Linked DNA regions of Homo sapiens. The protein of the gene in region 6 interacts with the protein of the main gene of each other region in a pairwise test. Each region holds a gene or a part of one and is shown on either strand. Other genes may lie near its edges.

The links.
Region 1: the proteins of NDEL1 (region 6) and DIXDC1 interact in binary tests that used the Homo sapiens proteins (3 or more experiments, as listed by UniProt).
Region 2: the proteins of NDEL1 (region 6) and CCSER2 interact in binary tests that used the Homo sapiens proteins (3 or more experiments, as listed by UniProt).
Region 3: the proteins of NDEL1 (region 6) and NUP54 interact in binary tests that used the Homo sapiens proteins (3 or more experiments, as listed by UniProt).
Region 4: the proteins of NDEL1 (region 6) and CEP63 interact in a two-hybrid assay, tested with the Homo sapiens proteins (2 studies listed by BioGRID and IntAct).
Region 5: the proteins of NDEL1 (region 6) and CEP135 interact in binary tests that used the Homo sapiens proteins (3 or more experiments, as listed by UniProt).
Region 7: the proteins of NDEL1 (region 6) and CENPF interact in binary tests that used the Homo sapiens proteins (3 or more experiments, as listed by UniProt).

The regions. Positions count from the first base shown.
Region 1 is NC_000011.10:112,019,660-112,023,801, reverse strand, and holds the end of DIXDC1 (dixin), read right to left. Parts: 3' UTR 1,149-4,142; downstream 1-1,148. UniProt on the Homo sapiens protein: Positive effector of the Wnt signaling pathway; activates WNT3A signaling via DVL2. Regulates JNK activation by AXIN1 and DVL2.
Region 2 is NC_000010.11:84,516,303-84,520,253, reverse strand, and holds the end of CCSER2 (serine-rich coiled-coil domain-containing protein 2), read right to left. Parts: 3' UTR 1,737-3,951; downstream 1-1,736. UniProt on the Homo sapiens protein: Microtubule-binding protein which might play a role in microtubule bundling.
Region 3 is NC_000004.12:76,127,122-76,131,857, forward strand, and holds part of NUP54 (nucleoporin p54), read right to left. Parts: intron 4,164-4,736; coding exon 4,109-4,163; intron 3,629-4,108; coding exon 3,535-3,628; intron 1-3,534. UniProt on the Homo sapiens protein: Component of the nuclear pore complex, a complex required for the trafficking across the nuclear membrane.
Region 4 is NC_000003.12:134,491,983-134,496,718, reverse strand, and holds part of CEP63 (centrosomal protein of 63 kDa), read right to left. Parts: intron 1,424-4,736; coding exon of another isoform or gene 1,399-1,423; coding exon 1,355-1,398; intron 1-1,354. UniProt on the Homo sapiens protein: Required for normal spindle assembly.
Region 5 is NC_000004.12:56,017,652-56,022,387, reverse strand, and holds part of CEP135 (centrosomal protein of 135 kDa), read right to left. Parts: coding exon 4,531-4,736; intron 3,036-4,530; coding exon 2,833-3,035; intron 1,713-2,832; coding exon 1,608-1,712; intron 1-1,607. UniProt on the Homo sapiens protein: Centrosomal microtubule-binding protein involved in centriole biogenesis. Acts as a scaffolding protein during early centriole biogenesis.
Region 6 is NC_000017.11:8,438,067-8,442,802, reverse strand, and holds part of NDEL1 (nuclear distribution protein nudE-like 1), read right to left. Parts: intron 1-4,736. UniProt on the Homo sapiens protein: Required for organization of the cellular microtubule array and microtubule anchoring at the centrosome. May regulate microtubule organization at least in part by targeting the microtubule severing protein KATNA1 to the centrosome.
Region 7 is NC_000001.11:214,609,025-214,613,760, reverse strand, and holds part of CENPF (centromere protein F), read right to left. Parts: exon of another isoform or gene 4,558-4,736; intron 3,742-4,557; exon of another isoform or gene 182-3,741; intron 48-181; 5' UTR 7-47; coding exon 1-6. UniProt on the Homo sapiens protein: Required for kinetochore function and chromosome segregation in mitosis. Required for kinetochore localization of dynein, LIS1, NDE1 and NDEL1.

The DNA.
Region 1 (4,142 bases), on a different chromosome or scaffold from region 6:
ATGATCCCGGCTCACTGCAACCTCCACCTCCCAGGTTCAAGCGATTCTCCTGCCTCAGCCTCCCGAGTGCTGGGATTACAGGCACGTGCCACCATGCCCAGCTAATTTTGTGTTTTTAGTAGATACGGGGTTTCACCATGTTAGTCATGCTGGTCTCAAACTCCTGACTTCAGGTGATCCACCTGCCTCGGCCTCCCAAAGTGCTGAGATTACAGGCGCGAGCCACCATGCCCGCCCAGGACTTATAAATTATTATAAAAATGTTTTTGAGTTGGCTAAAATATCTTGCTGCTTTTGCTGCATTTGAACTTAATAACTGGATCTAAATTAGACTTTGGTATAAAGTATGAGGTGATCTTCCGGATCTGTTGTGCACTTAGGTATGCTTGCTTAAACCCTGTTTTGCATTTTTCAAAGAATAGCGAGTTTGTGTCTTGAATATACTTTTGACTTAAGTGTAGTTAAATTATAGGAATGCATAGCTCAAACAGTCCAGAGATGGCGAGCTTACCCCAGAGGTGGGCTAGGAATGCTTAGGTTTCTCAAATCAGTCCTGAGAGAACAAGCTTGAATTCCACTAAACAGACTGGATAAAGGAAATTATGGAAAAGGAGACTCAAGACTCAAAGGTTTGAAATAGAGATACTTAAGAGAATGGTGATATCACTGATATTGAGAGAAACAGAAATTAGTTGGTAGTGAAAGATTTTGAGTTATGTACATATTTAATTTTAACATAATGGGATAGCCAATTAATAGTTGAAAATACGTAATTGGAAGTCAAATGAAGGCACTCAGGGATAAAGAATTTAATATAGCAAACATTTAAGATGAATTGATAAGAGGCATTTAAGAGGCAGCTTTCAAATGATCTGGGAATTCTGGTCATTTTAAATACACATTTCTGAAAGAGTTCTTAATGCTTGCATACTGACTTTTGTCATAGAGTTTATACTCTTGGGTTCTTATTTGTTTGCATGTTTACATATAATTTCAAAATAAGTGCTAAATAAATTGTCCTTGATAATAGCCTATGTGCTTACATAGAAATACTAATTGTAAAATATCTGTAGCAATAAAGTAATTCTTATCTCCACTCCACATAGTGAGTAAACATGCTACCAGGGAGATCACTTGAGGAAATTTGCTTTCACTAAATGTAAATGGCTTTATTGATTAATCTCATCAGTAAACGCAAGTGAAAATCATTAATGATATTTAGTTTGCAAACCCCATTTTATTCATAGTTTGTGGTTTTTTAAATTAGTTCACAAATCTGGTACATACCGGCAGTTAAAACTGGTTATCACTTTGATAATCAGAAGCCTCTGGTGTAACATAGTCTTCATGAAAACATATTGTAAAACAGGGAGAATACACAGTAATAATCTCTTTGAAAGCAATGGCTGTAAACATCCATGTTTCTAAGAAAATATAACTTTACATATATATGTATTTTAAGCAAGCTATACCTCTTACATAAATTCAGACAGTAGAAGGAGTGTGCAATCATAATGCTTATTTTATGGAAACAGTGAAAATAATTTTAATTATGACCTAAATGCTTTTAAGTAATTAAAGTCCTCTTGAATTGGATGTATAGTATAAAGATATTTTCCCTAATTTGCAACCATCCTGGTCAAAAAGAGCTGAAAAGTTGGTCAGTAAGTAGAAGTGCCATTACCAAGTAAGTTTAAAACAAATTCTTCAAATTTAAAAATGTAAAAATTGTAAAGTATCCCAATCCCCCCAGCTAATTTAGGGAACTGAGCAAGAAGAGAACATTCTTCAGTTTTTAAATGACTTTTTTTTTTTTTTTTTTGGAGATGGGGTCCTGCTCTGTAGCCTAGGCTAGAGTGCAGTGGCATGATCAGCTCACTGCAACCTCAAACTCCTGGGCTCAAGCAATCTTCCCACCTCAACCTCCTGAGTAGCTGGGACTACAGGTGTGTGCCACCATCCCCAGCTACTTTTATAATAAAATTTCTATGTAGAGACGGAGTCTTCCTACGTTGCCCAGGCTGGTCTTGAACTCCTGGGCTCAAGCAGTCTTCCTGCCTCGGCCTCCCAAAGTGCTGGAATTACAGGCATGAGCCACCACACTCAGCCTTAAATGAAGATTTTGTAAGGAATTGAGCATTCAACTAAACTCGTTTTTGTGAGATGGTCATTTTGTTTTAACCTAACATGGTTTAGAGATTATTTTATGAACTCTAAGCATTCTGGTTCCTCAGTTTTCTCAAAGAAAGAGAACTTTAGCAAGTAGCAGGACAAGCTACCCCACACCAATGCCACCAGGCGACAATACTATGAATAAGTCAGGAGGCCTCCTAGAATGCAGCCAAATAGGAAACTGTTCCAAACAGAATCAGTCTTGCATACTTCTGCTCAGAAGGCTCCTCTCGCTTTGGAAACTGGAATGAGGATCACCAACAGGATCCTCATTTTACACAGGAGTTATGAGAGTTACATCCTCTAGCAGAGATGCTTGGTCATTACCTGTGGTACATGAGATTACCGAGCTAAAAGGGAAAAAAAACGATCTTAATGTTCTCCCATGAACTCAACTTAAGCTTTTTATGGAGGCACTGAGGCCATGCAGCTCCTTTTCCAAAAGACACAGATAAAAGCCAAATAAGGTAGAGGACTTTGGAAATTTTCTCTGAAAAGTTAAATTCCACATAATAGTAAGACTGTTTGCTGAGAGAAAACTGACAAGTAAAAACTGGTTTAAGAGACAGACATTCAAGACAAACTGTATTGGAAATACAATAATGAATTTTGGCCTGATAGCCCTCATGCTGTCTTATAGCAAAACACTAAAATTCATGCAACAGAGAAATTGGTGACATGAGGACTTTTTCTCCAGACTTCCTGGGGAAAAACTGTGAGAATATACTTTTTTCTTCTGTTTGCTTTCGAAATGCATTCTTTCTTTTGCTGACTTTCCCAAACTTTCCCAGTCGTTTCTGATGAAAAATTCTTCAATAGGAAAAGACCAGGTAAACTTACATGAAAGACATCAAGTATCTTTTGAGCTCCTTCTCTCTGCCAGAGGAGCAATCAACTGGATTACACAAAACTACCTTCACAACTAAAACAGGTAGAATTGGAACAGGAATTAGTTGTCATTAATATACTCGTAATAAAATAAAGCTTGTTCTGAAACCACAAGGGGTGGTAAGAAGAGACTGTATAAAAGCTACTGGGTTCTCTAGAAAATGGATACAGTATACAGAATGTGAGAAGATACAGAACTCACACTCCAGTTATAAAAATAGACATGGTTCTCAGACAAAAAGCAAATGAGTACAAAAGAATTCTCCAAACGTGAACTATTTTTAAAAGATACATCTATATAAAACAACAAGATGTCATCTCAGAGCTCCAAAGAGTAGTTTGTTGAAATGGCTGAAAAGGGGAGATGAATTGGAGACAGATAGGTCAAGAACCCAGAACAGATGTGTCCTACTCTTGTGTTTGGCAGTGTACATTGGAGGTCACAGGCAGATAGACTGCTTTTGGTAATACATATATAAATAATAATGGCTGACTGGTTGATGGTGCTTGATGGATGAATGAGAAAACCCAGGTTATCAAATAATCTCGGTAGTTGAACTGTTAGCTTCTTCACTTGACAATGTTGCACATCAGAAATGATTCTAGGTTTTTTTTACCCAGAATGATCCCTGCCATTCACAACTCATGCTCCACGCCCCATGGTTTCTATTGTGCCCTAAAAGATCAGCCTAGACTAATACATAAATAGAAAATAACTCTGGCCTTGAAATGAGGGGCAGACAAGTACTTCATGCTCAGTACTTATAAATCACAAAGAAATGCTGAAATTAATGGTCTGTCTCCTTTTACTACAAAGGAGATGCCATGAGTTAAAGTCATGAAACAAAGAAAGTCAAAAAGATATGGGTAGCAGCACCTTTCCATACCCGCCTGGATTTTCAAGGAGCTTTTCACTCCTTATGCCTTTCAAACAAAAGTTCATCAGTTTGAAGAAAAAGAAATGGCTCTAAAGTTAAAGAGTCCCCAGAGAAAACTAACAGTACATGAAATAGGCCCTATGTGGGCAAAAGGACAAGCTGCAGAACCAGTTAAGACAGAAGAGGCAGCCCAAGGTCTTACTA
Region 2 (3,951 bases), on a different chromosome or scaffold from region 6:
ATATTATATTTGATCTATCCAAGAGAATGGGATGGAAGGAAAAGCCCGGACATGAATTTGAATGTTAAAGGTAGACTTCAGAAAGCAACATCTTATGGGTTGAGGTTCTAAAAGGGACAGTGGCCTTAGGATAGTCGAGAAGTCTTAAAATCAAATTCCAAGAACCTAAAGTAGAAAGCAGAGTATTTAATAGTGGCTAAAGAGGAAGTTCGTTCTTGGATAAAATAATAAAAGGCCAGGTTTTCTAGGGAAATGAAGGCATGCAACCAAACAAGAATAAACATAATATAGAATCCAAGAGGAGAATAGTGCAAGGGAGTTAAAGCCCAGAATGAAATGAAACTGAAGAGGAAACGTCAAAAGAGACTGGTAGGTTCAAAGGAAGATAATAAACAGGGAATGCAAGGGAAGGGCTCAGTGCTGCAATGGATCGGATGATGTTAAAAATCCCCTAGGGTTCCTAAGCTCCATAAGGCAGAACCTGTATCATCGTTACCTTTGTACACCCTGCAGCCAGCACAGCAAGTGACACAGGTAAGACATCCCATCAAACTTACTTAAACCAAGTTAACAGAGGAAGAAGTCAATTCTTTAACTCATGCTTGTCTTTTCTGTAGGGATAAAATATTTTCACAATGGAAAACGCGCAATCAACAGCATAAATGAAGAAACTGAAATGACTACACTTAATGACAAAATTAAAAGGGAAAATTTTTAGTATAAGAAAGTACTTGCTAATGATAGATGCAGAAGGCCAATAAGGGGGAGGGTCCTCAGAGAATCTCCAACCAGCTTGTGCACTGGGAGAACTGGGTGGAGCCACGGGAAGTTCCAGCCTTGGGCAGGAGGGAAGAGCCTGAGCTCTTCAGCTCACATGTGTGGTGGCCTGGAACTTATCTGTGAGGTGGGGGCCTGTTAGCAGGATTCCCCCCTTGCTTTGCTGAGTTTTTTTTTCCTTTTTGCCCAATGAATTCCATTCCCCACACACTTCAATGTGTCCATGTGTCTACATTTTCCTGGTCCTGACACAAGAACCCCGATTTAGCCGACCTAAGGAGCAAAATTCTGCAACACTAAGAACTCAGATGGCCTTAAAGTTCATACAGGTGTCTTAAGAGGTAATAAGTGCTATTATCAAACTATTAATAAAATTTCCCTCCTTTCCCAGAATTCGTGTAAACATTTTGGATTAATAACATACCACTGCATCAACTTTTTTGTCTCTTATTACGGGACTATCGCATCTGACTAAACTGTAAAACTGAAAAAATATATATTCCTTACTCCTTTTGTTCCTAAAAATTATGTAAAATTTCACTAAACACCTTTCTTGCCTCAAGCTATTTTGTATACTGCTTAAAAACAATGACAAAATAATTAAAATTACAAGTGTTTTCTTCCTTGTACAGCATTCTAAATCCAAGGTGCTAATGTTTCTTGAAATGTCCATTAACCATTATCCCAATATTCTAAGATAAAGCAGGTATTTTATTACAATGGAAACGAAAGTACTAGATCTCTTACAGAATTTGTGAAGACACAACAACAAAATACTGATCAACTCCTACTCAATCAGGGCTTGGGGTGTCAAGATGTGTGTGAAGGCAGCATGTAAAATAAAGTATCAGAGTTGGGAAAAACATAAGCAAATGAACAGTATCTTAGATCTTTGTGGGAAAAAAGATATCAAAGAAAAAGCAAACTATGGGAGTCAATGTTGAGAAAGACAAGAGAACTTTTATAATTATGAACTTTATTTTTATTTACTATGCCAACATTTTCAGGAGAGACTTTACATCTGCTTTTTAGAATTCATTTTACAGGCAAATTCTAATATACAGTTTGTACTCTAAACTGACTTAAAATCAATGGGAAAAACAATACTGCAGATATTATTTTTGCTCTTTGTTAGTAATGACTTAGAGACCTTACATTCTCGGGTATTATTTTGTTAAGTAAACGCTTTACCAAGGAGAAAGTGGGTAAGCTTATTCCCAACAAGATTAAAACATGTATCTTCAGTTAATGACATAGTTGTAGATTGGTGCCCACCATCAGAATCATTTAATCAAAAGTACTCTCTCAAATTGCTGCAGCAAAAACTTAAAGGGAGATGTGAAAAATCACTAGAAAATAGAATTCAAGCATCAGAATTTAAAAAGGAACAAGGCCATCATCCCCAAGGAAAAACATCGGGTAGTACAGCTATAATTAATTTTCAAATGTGTGCTTAAGCATGCAAACATAACCACCCAAACGAATTTAAAAACACAAAAACTACTGGGTAAGATGGAAAGTAAATTGAAATGGTGCTGCAGCCTTATTGATCTTAATTGCAAGCCTGTTCGGTGATTTCAAAGTACATCCCCAGTGCCCTAGAGACCAGGAAACCAGTATGACAACTCTGCTCAGAAACCAAGAGTGCACCTCAGTGTCTGTAACACCATTTATGCTACAGGAACATTTGGAAGTGACAGCTGTAGGGGGATCACGCTCTCTCTGATGTACTGAGAAAAAAGTAAAATACTTATCGGAACAATGGAACATTCAAAGAAAACTTAGTGCTTTAATGGAAAAGTGACATGCTGGGAATATATTTCTGTGAACAGCTGTACTGATATCTTCAAACAGCAACAATTACAAATTTATTTCAACAAAGCCACACCCAATAGGAGGCAATTCGATATTTCAGGCACAACTTCAAGCAATTAAGCTCATTTAAAGTGCAAATCTGATATTTTCTTTCATATTCAGATTTTTACTTGTTAAAGTACTTAGTAAATTCTAATATATATATAAATACAATGAACAGTAGCCTATATGCCTGAAAATATTGCACAAATAAAAATGAGACTCCAAAAGAAAAATGTTAGATGGTCTCAGTTATTAGAAACAGTCTAAATGACATAACTCTATAATCCTTTAATGCCTTAAAATCATCTGCACCTGTACCAATAAACTCCTTAGGCCAAGCCTTCTTTTAAAAATTTGATATGCATCCCATTAACAGCCAAATATCAAAGTCTGAATACTCTACTAATTTCCTCTTTCACGAATGTGAAACTTAACAAACCCCATAAAATTTCTTCCTCAGGACTTAGAATTCATATACTGTAACTATCTTCATTGATACCACTAGAACTAAGACAATAAATGGTTTGTGGAGGAGGATTTGGCACAGAGTTGATTTACATTAATAGAAGCAATAAACACAGATCAAGCCAAATCTAAGATGATCTTTGATTATTCAGTAGAGTTACATCCTCACTTCCATTTCAGACTTAACATTTACTAAGAAGCAGACAAGCATGATATTCTTGCAGTTTTTAATGAAAACTGCAGGCAAATACTTTATGTCATGCAAGCATCCTAGATTTGTTTTCTTTTAATATATTATGCTTCATAAATATACGATAAGCCTATCTTCTAAAAGATTAAGACTCAACAAAGGTAGAGAAAAGTTGAGCTAATTGGTTAACATTTCTGCAAATCCATCAGGGAAGGAAAAAATAGAGAAAAATGGAGTAAATACATGGAGGAAAAAATAGAGAAAAATAAATTACTGGAGTCAACATTTTTATGTAATGGACAATAAAGACATTTCCCTCAGACTAGGGAATTAAAAATAAATTTAAAAATTTAGAACTTTTCCCTTAAGGATAAGGCCAACTCGTAAATAATGTTTCATAAGGGTCTAAACCAACTTCTAAATAAACCAAAAACCACTAAGTCACTGGTTTTACTTTAGGGGAATATAGTATGATTCACATATTTGCAACATGTGAGAACGGTTTTCTTTCTCCTTCAAAATGATAGAACATGTATGCCCACTTACAACTGCAGCCATCATGGGTCATCTCCATAACAAAGTGCTTTGCTGATTTGCCTGACTCTAACAGTATCTGGACTATGTGAAGAACGTTCTGAACTTCACTGCTTCTCCATCAGAAG
Region 3 (4,736 bases), on a different chromosome or scaffold from region 6:
TATTTTTATAGGCAATATTAAAAATATAGGGCTGGGCGCAGTGGCTCACGCCTGTAATCCCAGCACTTTGGGAGGCCAAGACGGGTGGATCACGAGGTCAGGAGATCGAGACCATCCTGGCTAACACGGTGAAACCCCATTTCTACTAAAAATACAAAAAATTAGCCAGGCGTGGTGGTGGGCGCCTGTAGTCCTAGCTACTTGGGAGGCTGAGGCAGAACAATGGCGTGAACCCAGGAGGCGGAGCTTGCAGTGAGCCGAGATTGCGCCACTGCACTCCAGCCTGGGCGACAGAACGAGACCCCCATCTCAAAAAAAAAAAAAAAAAAAAAATGGACCCACTATTTAGAGAAAAATAAATCTGAGTTCATACCACATACTTTATATAAAGGTAAACTTCATGATGACAACAAAAGACTCAAACGTGAAAGGTTAAACTCTAAATTTTTTTTAATGTAGGATACTCTCAGACTTTGGGGTGAAAAATTATTTAAGCAAATTCCCAAAAAGAAAATACAAGGCAAACATTTAATGGATATCATTACATTAAAATTAAGGATTTCTCTTCAACTACAGACACCAAAGACAGAATTAACAAAGAGATGAGAAACTAGAAGATATTTACAACGTTATAAACAGAGACTACAATCTAGAGTAAATGATTACTGAAGTTCAATAAAGAAAAAATAGGAAGCCCAGTGGAAACACTGGCCAAAGATATGAATGATTTCAGTTCTGGACAAGATGGACTAAGCATATACAACCCCAATCTCTCCCATTTAATATAGCTATAAAACTTGGATGGAATACACGGGGCAGCTATTTGGGAACTCTGGCAGGAAGATCAGGTAAGATAGGAATTTAAAGTACCAATAAACTTGTGGTGAGTTTACCCATTTTTCCCCTCAGGCGTCCCTAGTCTGGTTTCAACCCAGCCTCAAACCTGGAAATGAGCATAAATGCTGAAAGGGAGCTCCAAGGGAAGTCTGCTAGTTATAGTGGGAGGAGATACATCGTATTACCTAGAGAAAGGTTTCTCAACTTCAGCACTATTAATCTTGGGTAATTCCTTGTTGTGGGAGTACTGTTCTGTACACTGCAGAATGTGTGCAGCATCTGGGCCTCTACACATTAGACGCCTGTAGTACTCCCCAACCAAGAGTCTCCAGACATTGCCAAATGTGCTCTGGGAGACAAAATCACCACCACCACCACAAGCCACTACTAAGAAGTACTGCTCTAAGACTTGAAATAATAGATTAAAAGGAAATGCTGAAAAAAAAAAAAAAGTCCAAATAACTCAAAAGAAAGCAGAAAAGTAGAAACAGGAATGAAAAACAGAGGCTACAAACACAAAACAAATAAATGGTAGGACTAAATCCAAACTTTTTGCTGTCTACAAGAATCTCGCTTCAAATATAACAATATAGGTAGGTTAAAAGCAAAAAGATGGACAAAGGTATGCCATACAAACACTTTTTATCAAAAGAAAGGTAGCGTGGCTATGTTAACACCAGACAAAGACTTCTGAGTGTCTTGAGTAAGTGTCCATGAACAGATGAATGGATAAAGAAAACATGGTGTGTATGTGTACACATATATACACACACAATAGAATACTATTTAATCATGAAAAAGAATGAAGTGCTACCATTTGCAGCAACATAGATGAACTTGGAAGACATTTTGTTAAGTGAAATAAGCCACGTGCAGAAAGATAAATTCTGCATGTTCTCACTCATATGTGGAAGCTAAAAAAAGTTGATTTAGTAGAAGAAAAGAGTAGAATAGTGGCTACTAGAGGTGGAGAAAGAGTAGGAGTAGGGAACTGCCAAAGGTTGCTTAACAGATACAAAAGTACAGCTGGATAGGAGGATTAAGTTCCAGTGTTCTATAGCACTATAGGTAACTATAATTCACAACCATTTATTGTGTTTCAAATAGCTATAGGAGTGAATTTCCCATGATACCAACAAATGATAAATGTATGGGGTAATGGATATGCTAATTACTTTATTTGATCATTACACACTATATCCATGTATTGAATTATCACACTATGCCCCATAAATATGTAGTTATGTATCGATTAAAAACAATAAAAGAAAAGGCCATTAGAGAAGATTTAAAACTTACCGAGGATTAAGAGGGATATGATATAATAATAAAAGGTAAATTTGCCAAGAAAACACAACAATCCTATATAACAACAGCCCTTCAAACTATTAATACATGAAGCAAAAACTGAGAAATGAAAGGAGAAAAACACAAATCCGTAAGTGTTGCTGTAGATTTCAAATCTCTTCTCAAACTAGCAGACAGAAAAAACAACAAGAATACAGAACTGAGCAATACTATCAACCAACTGGATCTCACTGACATTAATAGAAAACTTCACCCAAGGACTGCAGAATACACATTATTTTCATAGGCTCCTGGGTTATAAAACCTCAGCAAAGTTGGCCGGGCGCAGTGGCTCACGCCTGTAACCCTAGCACTTTCGGGAGGCCGAGATGGGTGGATCACGAGGTCAGGAGATCGAGACCATCCTGGTTAACACGGTGAAACCCCGTCTCTACTAAAAATACAAAAAATTAGCCGGGCGTGGTGGCAGGCGCCTGTAGTCCCAGCTACTCCGGAGGCTGAGGAAGGAGAATGGCGTGAACTCAGGAGGTGGAGCTTGCAGCGAGCCTAGATCGCGCCACTGTGCTCCAGCCTGGGCGACAGAGCGAGAGACGTCTCAAAAAAAAAAAAAAAAAAAAAAAAACCTTAGCAAAGTTAAAAGAATTGAAATCATAGAAATTTCTCTGACCTTTAAGAATCTTTAAGTATTTAATTATGAAAGTTTTTTTTTTTTTTTTTTTTTTTTTTTTTTTTTTTGAGGAGTCTCACTCTGTCGCCCAGGCTGGAGTGCAGTGGCACGATTTCTGTTCACTGCAACCTCTGCCTCCCGGGTTCAAACAATTCTCATGCCTCAGCCTCCCAAGTTGCTGGCATTACAGGCGTGCACCACGACACCCAGCTAATTTTTGAATTTTTTAGTACAGACCAGGTTTTGCCAAGTCGGCCAGGCTTGTCTTGAACTCCTGATCTCAAGTGATCCACCCACCCTGGTCTCCTAAAAAAGTCTACTTTATGAAATAAAATATTAAGTATATTTAAGCATTAATTTTATCAACATACAATAATATACCAAGACAATTATATGTCAACATAAAATAATCATTACTATAACCTTCATTTTCATAAGGCCCCATAAATAATAATATGCAATCCCTGGCTGAAACTGGAAATGACAGTCTAATTAATCCACTAAGACAAGAATTCTAAATTCATTATTATATCAAATCAGATTCATGTGATTTGGGGACTTCTATCATAAAGAAGGTAGTTGTATAAAACTATTAAATTGCAGTGTATGCTACATTGTTTCCTGATTAAGATAAAACAGTAGCACATATACTAAAAAGAATTAAATGTCTATAATCCCTTTCCCTACTTCCAGGGCCAGGGAATAAAAAGCTAAATGCTTACATCTAATCTGGTTTGATGCTGCTTAGTCATCTGATCTTGAACCTTCAGTCTTCGGAGAAGTTCCTTAAAACCCACCATTGGTACAGGAATTAACCTGAAGAAACGCAGTGAACAATTTTCAGACCTTAAGCCTATTACTACAAAATACAAGAAGTGAAGGTTTTAGTAACACTCATGTAATTTTACATCAACTTTCTAGGGCTCTAAGGCAGATCTATGACTATGAGATAACCATGTTATACCAAAGAGATTTTATTCAACCTCCCTATTTTACAAATGAGGAAATACAGTTCAGTCAAAACATTACATTATTAAATGAAAACGCAAATAGAATTTTCCGCTCCTAGTTAGTTCTCACTATGCTATGCTGCCTTACCATAATCTTTTTTTTTCTTATTTTTTTCTTTTTGTTTTGGCTGAAGCTTTAGCTGGACAATAATCAATATTTTTTAAAGGCCAGGAAAATGAAAATAAACTTGTCTCATATGTAAGAATTATAATTAATAGCTCCCATGTTTGCTTTCCTAGTAGCAAATATTAGTTCTTAAATGAAACAAGATGAAGACATACTTACTTTTCAGAATCAGGGTTATCTACCTTGGCCTGTTCCCAGATAATAGGATCAACACCTACCACAAATAAAAAATATTTTTTCTAAAACAATTTTCTATTTTTATAATATGTGTATGACAAAGGCTTTCCTAAAGCAAGACCCTATACCTAGAAGCTATAATGAAAAGTGACTGTCAAATATAATCATGGTAAAAATACAAATTTTTGCAGAATAAATAAAGTTCAAAAAAAGCACAGATTGAAAGGAACTATCTATAACCTATAGGATAATAGATTAACCTCCAGAATATAGAAAGAGTTCCTATACATCAAAAAGGAAGACAAAAAAATCTAGAAAATGGGCAAAGGACACAAATAGGTAACTCACAAAAAATATAAATGTAGCTAATAAACATATTAAAAATAAGTATTAATTTTTAAATTAATTATTTTGCCATCAGTGGCCAGAAAAAATAACATTCCTGTTATGAATATAAACGGTAGAACTTTCCCTGGAGGGCAATTTGGCAATATCTAACATACATAATATTGACTCAAAAATTTCATTACCAGAGATCTATTCTAAAGAAATATATACCAATGTGTTCTAAGACATGTTTACAAGGATATTGTTAATTACTGTACAGTTT
Region 4 (4,736 bases), on a different chromosome or scaffold from region 6:
CACCTTATCAATAAAGACTGCACTCAATCAGATAATGACATAAACAGGCACAATATTTCACTATCAGTTATCACCAGAAGATTCTGTGGCCACAAAAAGAGCAAGACTTTACCAGCTCAAAACAGCTGTCTTGATAACAGCCTGTCTGGCTGTCACTTGTGATCAGCACCTGGCATCTGTCACCAAAGGCTCCTCCTTGCAAGAATGTTGACAACCGTCCAGATCAGGCCAGAATATTCTCTTTGTCCAGTTGTTCTCTTTGGACTAGTTCTTTAGCCCCCCCCCCCTTTTTTTTCTATCCTTTTCTCCTGTTAAATGTTACTTTGTTTGATGTGGAATGTTTACACTGCAACATTTACATATATTAATACACTATTATGTATGGTTTGCAATACTGACTGACTTGTGGAGAGGCTTGAGCCTGTATGCCCATGGCTCTGACTATTGAGTGAACTGGTAGTACTAGGGGGAAATGCCTCCTTGGGAACTCCATGTAGCTTGTGGCTTTTATGACTGAAATAGCATCAATAAAAGTTTGCTCTTGTAGAAAAGACACAAACATGTATGGACCTGGTTATGTCTGACTTTGCACCACTCACAACACATATGATTCAGAAAGCACACTATTGGGTAATCTATCCAAAGGAAAGGAAATCAGTATGTGAAAGGGATACTTGTACCCCCATGTTTATTGCAGCATTATTCACAATAACCAAGATATGGAATTGACTTGAGTGTCCAACAGCAGATTAATGGATAAAGAAAATGTCAGAAATATATCCATCATGGAATACTATTCAGCCATAAAAAAGAATGAAGCCCTGTTATTTGCAGCAACATGGATAAAACTGGTGGTCGTTAAGTGAAATAATAGGCACAGAAAGACAAATATCTCATGTTCTCATTCATATGTGGGGTCTAAAAAAGTTCACCTCATGGAGGTAGAGAGTAGAACGATGGTTACCAGAGGCTGGGAAGGGGTTGGGGGTGAAGAATGTTTGGTTAATGGGTACAAACCATACAGTTAGGTAGAAGAGTAAGCTCTAGTGTTAAATAGCACAGTAAGGTGACTACTAAGTAACTAGTATGTAACTAGTTAAGTAATTAGCACAGTCGGGTGACTAGCACAGTAAGGTTCCTTAAACTTTAAAAATTTACTATATATTTCAAAGTAGCTAGAAGAATTGAAATGTTCCCAACACAAAAAATGATAAATGCTTGAGCTGATAGGTATACTAAATACCCTTATTTGATCATTACACATTATATGTATGTATCAAAGTATCATGTGAACCCTATAAATATGTAATCATGTATTAACCAAAAAAATTAATTTTAAAAAAAGCAAACTTACCCACCATGCCCTCGATTTTGTATTCCTTCTAACAAAGCCTCCATCACCAAATCCCCTTTGTTTTGGCAACTGACAAAGAAAAAAATATCAGTCATGAGACAATTCATTTCTTCAGTTCTAACATTCTAACTTACAACTTAAGAATGTGAATGAAAGCATACATAATAATGAAAAAATGCAGCACTTCTTAAGATGACTGTAGAAGCAGTCAAAGAACATCACTTCAGGAATACTAGGAACAAACTATTTCGGACTAAAACAGAATAACTTAAAAATATCTGAATTGCGGTTGACACTCTCTCCGTGTAAATATCAAATATCTCATTGTTCTTTGCCTAATTCCTAATGTCGGGTGAGCAGGGGTGGAGGTGGGATCTCTCTAGCAGACGGATACACAAACTCCCTTAACAAAATGAGAAAGAAATGGGTTCACACATGTCAGAGGGAAAGTATAGCTTTTTAAAAATTAAAGAGATAGTATAAAAAATGCGAAGTGTACTGAGATTAAACTCTTTGGTCTATCATGGGAAAGCCTACTCACTCCTGAAGACAGGCTCATAGAGCTTCCTGCATGCAACATCCTCTCTCCACCGAAAGGCAGCCACAGGGCCCTCCCACCTCTGCACTTCATTTGCTCCCAGTGCTTAATACGTTCTTTCATAGGAGTTGCACCACACTGGAAGTGAGTTTTTTACATACTATTTTTCCTTACTAGACTATTCATCCCTCCAGGGCAGAAACCCAATTTTATTCATCTCTGCAGCTGCAGAGCTCAACGCAGCATTTCAACATGGCACGTGGCAGATTATTTTGGCTGAACTTAACTCCCCTCCCTCTTTTACCTACCCTCTCCCCCATGCAAACTGGTCACAGCTGGGGAACTACATGAAGGGTCTAGCAGAGAAAGAGGGAACGGGAGATAGAAGACTGCCATATAAACAGCAAGATACAGTTGGGTGCGGTGGCTCACGCCTGTAATCCTAGAACTTGGGAGGCCGAGGGAGGCGGATCACCTGAGGTCAGGAGTTTGAGACCAGCCTGGCCAACATGGTAAAACTCCGCCTCTACCAAAAAAAAAAAAAATTAGCTGGGCATGGTGGCATGCACCTGTAGTTCCAGCCATGGGGAGGCTGAGGTAGGAAAATCGCTTGAAGTCGGGAGGCGGAGGTTGCAGTGATCCGAGATCACACCATTGCACTACAGCCTGGGTGGCAGACAGAGATTCCATCTCAAATAAATAAATAAATAAATAAATAAATAAATAAATAAATATAAAATAAAGGGTAAGATACACCATGAAGAAAGGTGACAGTGAGAAAGGAAAGAGGACCCTTAAACTCAGTAGTGTTGATTAATATGTGTATGCTTCTCGCCTTTTATAATAAATCTTCAAAATGTTCAATGTCAAACCACTTTTCATTCCAAAATGCTTTTTCCTTAAACCCTTAAGACAATAACCAGACTGTGGTGTAGAGGTTCTGCCCCTGGGCTAATCCTCATCTAAAAATTATACTGCTGTAAGAAGTAGATTATTTTACTCAACACGTAATTCAATGTTGTACTAACAACTAGATATATAGTGATGAAAGATATGGCCCCTTTCAAGGTATTAATAGTCTAGTATGGGACAGAAAAAAATGAGCCAAAAAGGCTTTCCCAGTGTGATAAATATAGTGAGAGACATGCCCAGGGTGTTCCAGAGACACAGAGGAGAATGAGAAGACTGGAAAATAGAACCACTGCACCTTATTTGCATCTATTTTTAAAGATACTAACAAACTGAGTATTAAATTATTTGTGCACAAACGTGACAGGGAGGATTTTTTTTCTAGTTGGTTTATCCTACATATTACACCAAAATTGCAAAAATAAAAACCTAAAGAAAAAGGTTCCCATGTTTTACTCCACTTTCAAATCACAATACAGTCCAACTACAATGCAACCAAGATTCCATGTTTTGGTCCACTCTAGGAGAACTGGGAGGCAGTACACGGTCCACACCACACTAGATGGAGACCCAGGATACAGTCCTACTCTGCAACTAACTAGCTTTATATTCTCGGACTTGTTTTAACATCTGCAAAATGAGGGGCATGAACAATATTCTCTAAGGTTTCTTCCAGCTTTTTCATGGGTTCTAACAGCCAATTAAATGTCCACTGTAAGTAGCATGCTCCTGACAACCATACACGGATACTTAACTAACATGTAGGAAAGTGCTATTCTTATTGACAGTGCTATCACAGTTATTCAAAATTATCATTAGTAAAATTATACTTATTTAGGTCATGTTATTCTTAAACATTAATATATTTAGTAATATACATTAATATATTTTCTATGACTATTTAATAATATACTTAGAAGTTAAGTTACTGAATGTTCAACAGCTGCCTTGTACACATTGTCTAAATCAATCTTCACTATACTCATAAAAGACAGATACTATTACTTTGAGAAAACAGGCTTAGAGAGTTAAATAACTTGACTATGATAAACTAAAAATTATAGTCCTGGATTCAACCTAGACATTGTGGCAATCAATTGAGTCACAATCGATGTGCAACCTTTATATATTTTACAGTATTCTATATCTTAAAATATATCAGCCTATCTTTTGGCTTAATAGTGTCTTTGCAATAAAAAAAGAAATTAAACTGAAGTATGACATCACTACTGTGGCCACCAGGTGGCAGCAGCACAATAATGAAATAGTCACATAAGAAATATTGCTATTTTAGAAATCAAAATGGTCTAAGATAGAGATTCCTGTTTAAAAAAAAAAAAAAAAAGGAGGGAAGTGGACCAGTAATATCCTATGTGAGAAATAAAGTAAACTTACTAATGTGCAAAGTGTTTCTGTAATACCTTCACCATCTGCCTGGTGCCAAACACCATCAATTCTCAGGATCAGGCAAATAGTAAGGGCTGATTTTCTGTGGATGTTTGTCATCTGAGTTGCTCATAGTTATATCACTGATTCTTTTCCTAACCAACCTGACCATCATTCAACTCTATGCACTATGTCACTTTGATTTCTTCTTTGCATGTGCCATATAATTACATAAAATTAGACCATCCTGGCTAACACGGTGAAACCCCGTCTCTACTAAAAATACAAAAATTAGCCGGGCATGGTGGCGCGCGCCTGTAGTCCCAGCTACACGGGAGGCTGAGGCAGGAGAATGGCGTGAACCCGGGAGGCGGAGCTTGCAGTGAGTCAAGATCGCGCCACTGCACTCCAGCCTGGGCGACAGAGCAAAACTCCGTCTCAAAAAAAAAAAAAAAAAAAAAGAATACAAATAGAATGTCTTATAATAGGCAAATCTTTGAAATTCATTAACATAGACTTTATGAGCTAGAAAGCACTTCAGGCCTCTAA
Region 5 (4,736 bases), on a different chromosome or scaffold from region 6:
CCCAAGAAACAATTTTTTCCCTTGGAGGATGGTGGGTAATACTGCACCGATGAGAATGTATGATGTAGGTGGATAGTAAAGAGCAAGAAAGACATGGTCATGAGGCTCAAGGTTTCGTTGAGGCAAGGAACAAGGGGAGGAACTGTGGGGAAGTCTATAAGCCTGGGCAATAGAGAGCTTGATTTAGGACTTTTGATTTGCAGAGAATTTAAGTTATCCTTAAGAAATGGAAATCATTATATATGTACAGTTTAGTACATTCAGAAACTAGATCTTCTAAATTACAAGAAATTATCAATCCTGCTTTCATGTCACTGCTGCTACCTACGGCTTACTTTTTTGTTGGTTTGTTTGTTTTTTGAGACAGGGTTTCACTGTTACTCAGGCTGGAGGGCAGTGGCACGATCACAGCTCATTGCAGCCTCAACCTCCTGAGCTCAATCAATCCTCCCACTTCGGCTTCCTGAGTAGCTGGGACTACAGGCACCCATCACCATGCCCCAGCTAATTTTCAAAAATTTTTTTGTAGAGATGGTGTTTTGCCATGTTGCTCACGCTGATTTCAAACTCGTGGGCTCAAGTAAATCCACCTGCCTTGGCCTCCCAAAGTGCTGGGATTGCAGGCATGAGCCACCAAGCCAGGCCTTTATGAAATCGTAAATATTGATTTCATAGCAAATTGTCACTATACTTCAAATAGCACATCACTACAAAGTTTTGACGTAAATAGGTAAGAATAACTCAAAAACTGATCTAACAAGCAATTTGGCCACTAATTGAGAATGAAATCTCAGGAATGCAGATGTCTATGGTATTAATATAGTAGGAAAGAGTAATGGAAGACAAGTAACTTGGCAACTGATTTTCAAGTTAGACTTCGATTTAAAGCAGGTCTCAATCCGGGTTAGTAACACCTGGGGATTAAATTTTTCAACGTAAAGCAAATGAACCAAAATATGAGTGAATATGAAAATTACCAAGCTGTAGGGAATACATTGAAGAGGTTAAGGGTACAGGTTTTAGAATTAAAATCTGTTTGGTTTCCTACCACTTACTATTTATGTGATCTCAGTTTCCTATAAGGTAGGCATAATAATAGATTGTTGGTGGGATTCATCAGACACTTATATAGTGTCTGGTCCACATTTGTTAACTGCTGTTACTATCTTCAAATCATTACCTTTATTATGATTTGTATGTGGAACATCCTACTTGAACCATACATTTTGGAGCTCTTATAGGGATTGTTGTTGCTTCTCTATACTCTTTGAAATACTTTTGGATTCTAATTTTGTCCTGCGGAATGCTATAGGAAATATTTATCCAATACTTCCTATTTTACCTTATTTTTCAGATTATTAAACAATTTTATTCAATAAATATTTATATAGCATCCGCTATGTAATACTTGCTATTTTAGTTACTGTAGAGCTATTATCTTCCCCAACACTTGTTGCCTTTTTTAAAAGGAAGAATTACCAAAGAAATGTACTTTATGTATTAGCTTTTTAAAAAGTTTGTTATTTGTAAAGCCATATTAAATACTTTCTGAAGTACAATAGAGAACACATAAAAACATTGTCAAATGTAAAAAAAATTTGTCTTACCGTTCGTATCTTTCAGTTGAGATCTGCCTTTTCAGAGCATCATAATCTGTTTGTAACTGTGCCACTTTAGCTCGAAGCATGGTGTTTTCCCGGCTTTGACTAGTTCTTAAAAACAAATTAAAAAATCAAGAAATAAACGTTCCGTTTTGTAGAGTCAGGTGCTGTGGGTTTTTTAAATTAATAAAGAGAAGATCAAGACCTTTCAACAAGAATTCTCTAAACTTCTAGAGCTTTTATCACATTTTCTTTTTCATTCATTTAGTTTATTTATGAAACATGTACTGAACATCTATTATGTGCTAAGCACTAAAGCAATGCTAGGGATACAAATTTGAACGAGACATAAATGGTAACACCAAGATGTAAAGTGTCTTCATTGGCTCTTTCTTGACTCTTGCCTTGGAAAGAGAAATATTAATATTTTTAATACCTTTCAAAAGCTCATTCTTCCATGTGTACTCTACTCTGGGTTTCTTTCCCTCTTCCTACAAATATGTCTAAATCCTTCTATTCTAAAAATATGACATAATCAGTCTCTCCCAAAGTAATCAATACATGTATGTGGGTCAAATCTCATAGCCTTTTTAGAGTCCTTTTTCCTAATCTACAGCATAAGACACAGCCACCTCTTCTTCTCCCGAGAACACTTTCTCCTTCACTGACTCCTCTGTCCATTCCTCAACTGTAGGCGCTTTCCTAACGTTTTCTCTTCTCATTACTCCCACGGTACAACCTCTGTAGTGAAGATATACAGGTCTGCACCTCCCAACACGATGTTTCTCCCGAGTCAGTCTCCTAAATTTCCAAAAGCAGCAGATGTATAAGCCAAATATTTTGGTTTTGGGACAGCGTCTCGCTCTGTCGCCCAGGATGGAGTGCAGTGGTGCAATCTCGGCTCACTGCAACCTCCACCTCCTGGGTTCAAGTGATTCTCACGCTTCAGCCTCCTGAGTAGCTGGGACTATAGGTGTGTGCCACCACGCCTGGCTTTTTTTTTTTGTATTTTTAGTATAGACGGGGTTTCGCCATCTTGCCCAGGCTAGTCTCAAACTCCTGAGCTCAGGCAATCTACCCGCCTTGGCCTCCCAAAGTGCTGGGATTACAGGTGTGAGCCACTGCACCTGGCCTATCTTTCATACTCTTAACCTTTCCTCCACTTCAAAAAAATTAAAAAACTATCCTTCACAAGCAATTGTCTTTGCATAAGTTGACTTAAGACACTTACAATTTGCTTTCAGAAAGGGTTAACTTCTCCTTAAGTAGCTGGATTTCTGTATCCTTCTCGTGGGAGGTTAAGTGAGAATGAAATTCTTTATCTCTGTTTGTAGCCAACAATGATTCGAGGTTTTTAACTGTATGTCTCTCATTTGAAAGTTGTTTTTTCAGTAGGTCTGACTCTGACTTTACATTTTCTAATTCCACCACAACCTACGTGAAAAACAAAGTAAGATTACTTCAGTACAATTTTAAACTTACTCTGAAAAAATTATTTATCTGACAATATAGCTCTGTGGAACTATTCACCTATCACTTGTTTCATTTTGGGTATGGGTTAAAGATTATGAACTGTTTCTTTAAGTATAAGAAAGACACTTTATTTTCAAAATAATCTTTGCTATTTTTACTATGGGCTTATTTGGCTATAGGATCTACTCAAATCCTCAAATAATTTTTAGTCATGGTACCTTATCAAGAGACGGTCATTAAGATAAAACCACAAGGGCAATGAGACCCTTCTGGTTGAATATGCTTACTCTGACTACATAATCAAGCCAGTATTATAGTTTCTCAGTACCTGAAAATAAAGATACTACTAGATGAGTGAAAATTGAAAACATCCATGTTTGAAAACAAACACTAGGTTATTTAAAGTAATGCCTCCATCTGGGAAAGGTAAATTCTAGCTAAATAGACTTGTTTAATTAAGATTTAAACACCTTGAGATTTTTATCGGGAAAAATATTCTACTTCGGAAGCACTGAACTGTTCAATCCTTCATTCAAGTCTTACTTTTTTTTTTTGAGACAAGGTCTCACTCTGTTGCCCAAGCTGGAGTGCAGTGGCACAATCTCTGCTTACTGCGGCCTCGACATCCTGGGCTCAAGTGAACCTTCCCTGCCTCAGCCTCCCGAGTAGCTGGGACTATAGGCACATGCCACATGCCTGACTAATTCTTTGTATTTTTTGTAGAGACGGGGTTTTGCCATGCTATCCAGGCTGGTTTCAAACTCCTGAGCTCAAGCAATCTGCCTGACTCGACTTCCCAAAGTGTTGGGATTACGGGTGTAAGCTATCGTACCTGGCCTCAAGTCTTACTTTTAAACAGAGAAAGAATGTATTAGGATATGCTGATTTATAATCAGAAAATTCATAATCTCCTAGATAGCCATCTATTCCAAAACATTACCCACTTTCATCACTACGTTTGCCTGAGAAATCTTGCAAAGAATCAAGCAGTCAAATCTGGTTGTCAAAATCCTGTAGTCAAAAGTAACTATTGTAGGCTGGGTGCAGTAGCTCATGCCTGTATCCCAGAACTTTGGGAGGCCAAGGCAGGCAGATCACGTGAGGTTGGGAGTTTGAGACCAGCCCGGCCAACATGGTGAAACCCCATCTCTACTAAAAATACAAAAATTAGCCAGGTGTGTTAGCAGATGCCTGCAATCCCAGTTACTCAGGATGCTGAGGCATCCTGAGATGCCTGAGGGAGAATTGGTTGAACCCAGGAGGCGGAAGTTGTGGTGAGTTGAGATCGCACCACTGAACTCCACCAGCCTAAGCGACAGAGCAAAACTCCATCACAAAAAAAAAAGTAACTACTCTAAAAGGAAACAAGTATATGCATGGTGTGGTGAATACTAAAGTAAAATAATTAGAGTAGGGCTCAATAAAACAATGTGCCAAGACAATTTATCTTTCTTACCCTCTCAAACTCAAGGTTTTTCGAATTCAATTGCTGGGTCATAATATCTTTGCCTGAATCAAGTTTAATGCAAAGTTCTCTAAGAGATGACAAGTCATTTAATACTGTTGCTTTCTCATCTTCTTGATGTCTCAGCTCTTCTTCTAATCGAGACATGGCTTTTGCCATTGATGAGATCTGAGATTCATAAGCATGATGGGCATTTA
Region 6 (4,736 bases):
CTAAAAAAAAAAAAAAAAAAAAAAAGTAAATAAATAAAAACCTGGAGATGCATAGAACTTGGAGTTTATCTAGCACAAGCCACTCAGGAAGGTTTAGCAAAAAAAAAAAAAAATCTTTTTAAAGGAATGAACGGTTAAATCTCTCCACATCATCAAACATAGAACACAGTGGAAGTTCAATAAATATTTGAATTGAGGCTGGACACGGTGGCTCATGCCTGTAATCCCAACACATGGGGAGGCTGAGGCAGGAGGACTGCTTGAGCCCAGAAGCAATGAGGCTGCAGTAAGCCATGATTTTGAGGCTGCAGTGAGCCATGATTGTGCCACTGCACTCCAGCCTGGGCAACACAGCAAGACCCTGTCTCTAAAATAAATAAATAAATATGTGAACTGATTTATAATCATCCTTTCAATATTCCCTCTTGACTTTCAAAGTACCACTTTATTAACATCTGAATTCCTACTTCAGGAATGGAGTAAGCAAAAAGATGTGCGGGTAGTTTACTTCCACCTTACAATGTACCACCATATATTAAATCAATATTAGAAAACCTATCATTATCAGTTAGACAAAATTATTAATCCGATACATGGGCAGCCACATTCAGTCACTGACATAGGCTCAGTACAGGCTCCACATCAAAGAATAGGGAGTTGATGGGATTTATTGGGAAGAACCTTAGAGATAACCACTGCACACTAGCTACCTCAAATCATCATTATCCGGCCCTGAAATATAAATGGACAACCAAGAGCCATCTGACAAGTAAGAAAACCCAGTAGCATGAATAAGAAAATTTTAGGACCTAGTGAACTGAGAGGAAACAGACAATTCAGGAAATGAGATTTTTTCTTATACAAGAACTCAGAAGGTACTAGACAAAGACTTAAAAAAAAAGGTCAGGAGGGCTACCTCCTACACACTTCCTGAGACAAGTACAAAAGAAGGGAGAAAACCATGACCTGGACAGCATGGGATGCAGGAAATAGGGGCTCCAACCTAGGGCTGCAATGAAAAGTCCCAGGATGAAGCCTAGTCCATCAGGCCCATAGAATGCTTCAGACGGATGACACCAAGAAAAATAAGGAATCCCATAGAACAGATAGCATAGAGCACAAGTGAGAAGCTAGATATATTTGAGGTTGTGGTGAAGACATGTTACTCTACTGTCACTAAGAAAAAGAGAAATTTAAAAGCTCAGGAAAATAAAAAAAGCAATAGAAGAAAGTCCTGATCCTTATATAAAGCATTTTGTAAGTTAATGATTTCAAGTCTAAAACTTGTAATGTATTGATTTTATCTTATTTGAAGCAACTGGGATAAGTTCCATAACTTTATAGCCATCGATGAACTTCCTGTTTTTGGTCTTAGCTTTGCCCTGAGTCCCATGTGCTGCTCTCTTGGAAGGTTCCAGGATTTGGCGAACAAAATTGTATTCTCCTTTTTTATGTCCCCTCTGGTTTTGTAGCCTTTGATGATAATACCTCTCAGCCTTGGTCTTCCCAAAGTGATTATTTCTTGCCTTTTTAGCCTATAATGATTTGGCAGCCATCTCAGTCCCTTAAATATTTTGTTATGCTTTGTATTGCCCCTAGATTACCTATCTGCCTTTCTGGGGCTGAGTGCCTAGTGCTGCTTCTGTACTGAACATTTTATTCACTGGTCAGATCATTTTTCTTTTGAGTTTTCAGTACTCTTTCTGTTACTGTGCAGCATTTGATGATATTGCTAGTAGTGTGGCCCATGAACCGGTATCATTATGGAAGTTCCTAATGACTGTTAGATACCTTCCTTGGCATCTAACATTTATTTGAAGGTGTTTGAATGTGGGGCCAATTCTTCTACGAAAAGAGTTAGGATTGTTTTGAATCTCTAAATGTTATTCAGGAGTCCACTTCAAAACATTTCCATGTGGGGGTATTTTTTGTTGGTTTTGACCCATTTATATAGTATCAGAGGACATACTAGCAGTTAATGCTTTGAAGAGCACCTAGTTAAGTAGTAATCCCTGAGGAATAGCATTGTTTACCCCTCTGGATGTATTGCGAGTATCCATTTGTCTCTGACTTCTGGTTCTTGTACAGGGACATATTCTTAATACAACACCAACTTTTCCATGAGTGTCCCCTGATAACTCAGGTTTTTAAATAGCCTTTTGCATGAAACTTTTTGAGAATCTAGTTCTAGCCCTTGCATCCTCTTTGTCCAACTACTTACATTCAGTGTCAAGTAATTCTAGCAAAATTATTTTACTTCACACACATTCTTTTTTTTTTTTTTTTTTTGAGATGGAGTCTCACTCTGTTGCCCAGGCTGGAGTGCAGTGGCACAATCCTAGTTCACTGCAACCTCTGACTCCCAGGTTCAAGCAATTCTCTTGCCTCGGCCTCCTAAGTAGCTGGGATTACAAGCACCCACCACCATACCTGGCTAATTTTTGTATTTTTAGTAGGACACGGTTTCACCATGTTGGCCAGGCTGTCTCGAACTCCTGACCTCGTGATCTGCCCTCCTCGGCCTCCCAAAGTGCTGGGATTACAGGCATGAGCCACCGCGCCTGGTCACATTCTTTATTTTCTTGCTGAATCTCATGTGAATTGAATGTTGACCACAACTTTTCTAATCAATAGGCTATTTTCATAACCCGCTTATTGGCCCCTCTAACAGTATTATAACCTATGTTGGATATCATTTACTAAAAGGACCATCATCTCTTCCAGATCAAAACAATTTAAAACATTTAACCAAGAATAAGTCATAGGAGCAGCATAGCATAGTGGTTAAGAGCCCAGACCGGGAAGCCAAACTGCCCAAGTCTGAAGTCAGACCTGGAAGTTCAGACTCGCTACTGATGCATCTACTCACTACTTGGGTGACCTTGGGCAAGTGACTTAATGACTCAGTGCCCCATTTCCTCACCTGTAAAATGGGGATAATCATTAGAATGAGCTTATGAAGTGAGCTAATATTTGTAAAGTACTTAGGACAGAACCTGGCACATAGTAAAAACCTAAATGTTCATCAAGCTATTAAAAATTGGTAGTTCGATAGCAGACCTTTCAAGTATGACCACAAAGTAAACAGGCTTCAAAATTTAAAACATGCAAATGATTCTTTAAAACTGATCATTTCAGGAATATATGCATATTCCAGTGATATCACCATTGCTGAAAAACATTTCCAAAACTTCTTTTTTGGAATAGCCTTTATGAGCCACATTAAGAACAAAGCAGGCGAACAAAGCAGGCCAGGCGCGGTGGCTCATGCCTATAATCCTAGCACTTTGGGAGGCTGAGGCAGGCGGATCACTTGAGGTTAGGAGTTCAAGACCAGCCTGGCCAACATGGTGAAACCTCGTCTATACCGAAAATATGAAAAAAAAAAAAAAAAATTAGCTGGGTATGGTGGCCGGCACCTGTAATCCCAGCTACTCAGGAGGCTGAGGCAGGAGAATCGCTCAAACCCGGGAGGAGGAGGTTGCAGTGAGCCGAGATTGGCCACTGCACTCCAGCCTGGGCAAAAGGGTGAGATTCCATCTCAAATAAAAGAAAAAAAAAAAGGCCGGGCACAGTGGCTCACACCTGTAATCCCAGCACTTTGGGAGGCCGAGGCGGGCGGATCACGAGGTCAGGAGATTGAGACTATCCTGCTAACATGGTGAAACCCCGTCTCTACTAAAAACACAAAAAACTAGCTGGGCGTGGTGGTGGGCACCTGCAGTCCCAGCTACTCGGGAGGCTGAGGCAGGAGAATGGCGTGAACCCGGGAGGCAGAACTTGCAGTGAGCCGAGAGCGCGCGACCGCACTCCACTCCAGCCTGGGTGACAGAGAGAGACTCCGTTTCAAAAAAAAAAAAAAAGAACAAAGCAAAAACTTCTTACTTTGTGGTCACACCTCATCTTTATTGCTTCCTAACTGGTATTATCCAGCTCTATTGCCCTACTTTTACCCATCAGATTTACTCTTTTTAAAAATCAGATTCTGGCCAGGCACAGTGGCTCGCGCATATTAATCCCAGCACTTGGAAGGCTGAGGTGGGAATGTCAGTTGAGCCTGGAACTTCAAGGCCAGCCTGGACAACATGCTGAAACCCCATCTCTAACAAAAATACAAAAATGAGCTGGGTGTGGTGGCATGCACCTGTGGTCCCAGCTACTCGTGAGACTGTGGTGGGAGGATCGCTTGAGTCCAGGAAGTTGAGGCTGCAGTAAGCTGTAATCACTCCACTGCACTCCAGCCTGGGTGACAAAATGAGACCCTGCCTCCAAAAAAATAAAAATAAAAATCAGATTATTTACAAATAATAAAATTTGCTACCACTGCAGATACTCAAACGACAGTTTCAGGGGCTGTTATACAGTCTGTTCAGTTTGCTTCAAGTTACACTGGGAGGATGTGTTCACTTATTTCAAACTATGTAACTGGAGATATTCAGGCTATAGAAAGTTAGCTAATATAGAAAACATACTGCTAAAACAATGCTCTAATGGTACATCCACAATTTTCTGAAGCTAGAATGAAGATAGATAATTATGTATTATTGGCAGGGCACGGTGGCTCACGCCTGTAATCCCAGCACTTTGTGAGGCTGAGGCAGGCGGATCACGAGGTGAGGAGTTCGAGACCAGCCTGACCAACATGGTGAAACCCTGTCTCTACTAAATATACAAAAATTAGCAGGGCATCGTGGTGCGCACCTGTAATCCCAGCTACTCAGGAGGCTGAGGCAGGA
Region 7 (4,736 bases), on a different chromosome or scaffold from region 6:
GCTCATTTTGTTCTGCCTTCTTTATTACTCCAACATTTGTAAATAAACTGAAAAGAATAACCAGACTGTTGGTCTTACCACAGTAAAAGGAAACAAAGTCTCAGAAATTAATGAATCTATCTAACCACCCCTAAAAATCAAGTTTCAAGACCACATTTCAAAAGATAACAAAGTATAATACCTATCTTCTCCATCCTCTGAAAGGTGGCAACCAATAATTGATTCTGAAGTACATACTGTCCTGCTTAGTTTCCCTTTGCTTTCTGTTTTTCTTATTTCTCGGTGTTGACTTCTTATATCACTACCTGCTTTCTATTGCTCAGTTTTTTCATTATACAAAACATGGGGCAACAGTGATGCAAGATGGCAGTCACCACAGGATCAGGAGTAAAAGTCTCTCGAAGTTTCCAACTGATGGAAGAACTCGAAGAAGGCCAGAAAAAGGTAGGAGGTGGCATAGTTAGCTGGTGTTTAGAAGATGATGAAGACCTGGGACAAGATGGACAGGGATGATAATTGGGCCTCCAAGAATGATTTACGAAAATCAAGTATACAGCCTTAAAATAGAATGTATCCTAAATGCCCAGAAGCACCCTGCCTTTGTAAGATTTGTAACAAAAATTAATATAAATAGGGTTAATAGTTGTAATGGAGTGGTGGACCAAAAAGCCATATCAGTGCTAGCAAAATGGCAGAATTCATGTAGCATCAAAGTTGTCCTACAAGAGCTTTGGTGCCTAATGATGTCTAAAGAAAATGTGACACTCCTTCAGCTGCCTGAAGGACAGGGTTACAGCAGTTAATCAAAAAGAAAAACCATAGGCCCTTCCCCTTCCTGCCCCCCATTCAATTTAAACAGTCTTCATCTTCCACAGTAGTAAATTTTCTAGATATGCCTTGTAGACCTCAAAGGACTAGAAAGGAAGCTCCCATTCAAAGGAAATTTATCTTAAGATACTGTAAATTATACTAATTTTTTGTCCATTTGAAATATGTTAGTTGCGCTGTAACAATCATCCTGCCATGTGTAACATCCTGTCCACATACTTGAATTTCTGGGATCAAGAAAGTATATTTAAATTGATTCCCATCATAACTGGTGGAGTACATCTAACTCAACTGTGAAAAGACATATCACATAATCACCTTGCTGCTGATTAAATGGCCTGGGGCCTCTGCCTTCTCCTGTGGGATTACTGTTGGGTGTACAGGGTACTTTGTCTGTACCCCTGGTTTCCAAAAAAATTAAGGAGGAGGGACGCCTCCTCAACTCATTCTATGAGGCCAGCATCATCCTGATACCAAAACCTGGCAGAGACCCAACAAAAAAAGAAAACTTCAAGCCAATATCCTTGATCAACGATGCAAAATTCCTCAAAAATATACTTGCAAACCAAGTCCAGCAACACATCAAAAAGCTAATCCACCATAATCAAGTAGGCTTCATCGCCAGGATTTACGGTTGGTTCAACATACGCAAATCAATAAATATGATTCATCACATAAGCATAACTAAAGACAAAAATGACATGATTATCTCATGCAGAAAAGCTTTCATTAAAAATTCAACATCCCTTCACGTTAAAAACTCTCAATAAATTAGGTATTGAAGGAACATACCTCAAAATAATAAGAGCCATCTATGACAAACCCACAGCCAACATCATACTGAATGGGCAAAAGCTGAAAGCATTCCCCCCTTGAAAACTGGCAAGGAGGCCCTCTTCCACTACTCCTATTCAACATACTATTGGAAGTCCTGGCCAGAGCAACCAGGCAAGAGGAAGAAATAAAAGGCATCCAAATAGGAAGAGAGGAAGTCAAACTACCCCTGTTTGCAGACAACATGATCCTACATCTAGAAAACCCCATAGTCTTGGCCCAAAAGCTCCTTCAGTTGATAAACAACTTCAGCCAACTCTCAGGATACGAAAATCAATATACAAAAATCACTAGCATTCCTATACACTGACAACAGCCAAGCCAAGATCCAAATCAAAAATGCAATCTCATTCACGATTGCCACAATATGAATAAATCACCTAGAAATACAGCTAACCAGGGAGGTGAAAGATCTGTACAATAAGAATTAGAAGGCTGGGCTCAGTGGCTCACGCCTGTAATCCCAGCACTTTGGGAGGCTGAGGCGGGCAGATCACCTGAGGTCAGGAGTTCAAGACCAGCCTGGCCAACATGGTGAAACCCCATCTCTACTAAAAATACAAAGATTAGCTGGGTGTGGTGGCAGACGCCTGTAATCCCAGCTACTCAGGAGGCTGAGACAGGAGAATCACTTGAACTTGGGAGGCAGAGGTTGCAGTGAGCTGAGATCGCACCACTGCACTCCATCCTGGGCAACAAAGAGCGAAACTCCATCTCAAAAAAAAAAAGAATTAGAAAACACTGCTCAAAGAAATCAGAGTGACACAAATGGAAAAACATCCCATGCTCATGAATATGAAGAATCAGTATCATTGAAATGGCCATACTGCCCAAAGCAATTTGCATATTCAATGCTATTCCTATCAAACTACCAAAGACATTGTTCACAGAACTAGAAAAAACTATTTTAAAATTGATATGGAACCAAAAATAAGCCCAAATAGCCAAGACAAGCCTAAGCAAAAAGAACAAAGCTGACAGCAACATGTTACCCTACTTCAAACTATACTACAGGGCTACAGTAACCAAAACAGCATGGTACTAGTACAAAATCAGACACATAGACCAATGGAACATAATAGAGAGCCCAGAAATAAGCCGCACACCTACAACCATCTGATCTTTGACAAAGCTGACAAAAACAAACAATGGGGAAAGGATTCCCTATTCAATAAATGATGAGATAGCTGGCTAGCCATATGCAGAAGAATGAAACTGGACCCCCTCCTTACACCATATACAAAAATTAATTCAAGATGGATTAAAGACTTAAATGTAAAACCCCAAACTATAAAAACCACAGAAGACAACCTAGGCAATACCATCCCGGACACAGGAATGGGCAAATATTTCATGACAAAGACACTAAGAGCAATCACAACAAAAGCAAAAATTGACAAATGAGATCTAATTAAACTGAAGAGCTTCTGCACAGCAAAAGAAACTCAACAGAGTAAAAAGACAACCTAAAGAATGGGAGAAAATATTTACAAACTATGCATCTGATAAAGGTCTAATATCCAGCATCTATAAGGAACTTAAATTTACAAGAGAAAAACAACAACCCCATTAAAAAGTAGGCAAAGGACATGAACACTTTTCTAAAAAAAAAAAAAAAATACATGTGGCTAACAAGCATATGAAAAAAAGCTCAATATCACTATCATTAGAGAAATGCAAATTAAAACCACAATGAAATACCATCTCACACCAGTCAGAATGGCTATGATTAAAAAGTTAAAAAATAACAGATGCTGGCCAAGTTGAGAAGGGAACACTTATACACTTTTGGTGGGAGTGCAAATTAGTTCAACCATTGTGGAAAGCAGTATGGCAATTCCTCAAAGAGCTAAAAACAGAACTACCATTCAACCCAGCAATCTCATTCCTGGGTATATACCCAGAGGAATATAAATCATTCAGCCATAAAGACACATGCATGGCCAGGCACAGTGGCTCATGCCTGTAATCCCAACACTTTGGGAGGCCAAGGCAGGTGGATAACTTGAGCTCAGGAGTTCGAGACCAGCCTGGGCAACATGGCAAAATCCCTTATCTACCAAAAAAAAAAAAAAAAAAGGCACATGCACACACAAATGTTCATTGCAGCACTGTTCACAATAGCAAAGACATGCAATCAATCTAAATGCCCATCAGTGACAGATTGGATAAACAAAATGTAGTACACATATACCATGGAATACTATGCAGCCATAAAAAAGAATGAGATCATGGTTTTTTGCAGGAACATGGATGGAATTAGAGGCCATTATCCTTAGCAAACTAATGCAAGAACAGAAAACCAAATGAACACAAAGAAGGGAACAACAGACACTGAGGCCTCCTTGAGGGTGGAGAGTTGGAGGAGGAAGAGCAGAAGAAAAAATAACTATTGAGTATTAGGCTTAGTACCTGGGCAACAAAATAATCTGTACAACAATCCCCCATGACATGAGTCTACCTGTAAAACAAACCTGCATGTGTACCCCTGAACCAAAAATAAAAGCTAAGAAAAAAATAATATTTTGCCATAAGGTTTTCAGGTGAAATAGGTCCTATAAACAAAGAAAATGCATGACAAGATATTCTGCATATGCTCCTCTTTCCCTCTTCACATGGTTAATTACCACTCACACTTTGTCCCTCTTCCTCTGGGAAACTTTTCTGAGATCCCTGACCCGGCCATAGTTTCCCATCATAGTTACTCACAGCACAGGTAGCCCATCTCCTTCCAAGCAGTTATCATTTTTTAATAATGAATGCATGCATGAATGAAGAGTGAATGCCGTATTAGTACTAGAATCACTGCAAAAGGTGGTAAAGTCATGCTCCAGACAGACACTGACCAGGAAAGACATATACAGTACAACCTTAGAGATTCAAAGCGGATTCTTCGGGGGGAGCTGCGGCGGTGGCGATGCAGGAGGCCGGCCGGGGCGCGGAGGGACCGACGGACGCACGGGCAGGCGGCCAGGCGCCATGGAGTGCGGCCCTGGGGCCCAGGGGCGCGGGCCGGGGTGGGCTTCCCACGGCGTGACATGGAGACCTGTGGTTGCGAGGCTCCCTGGGGCTCG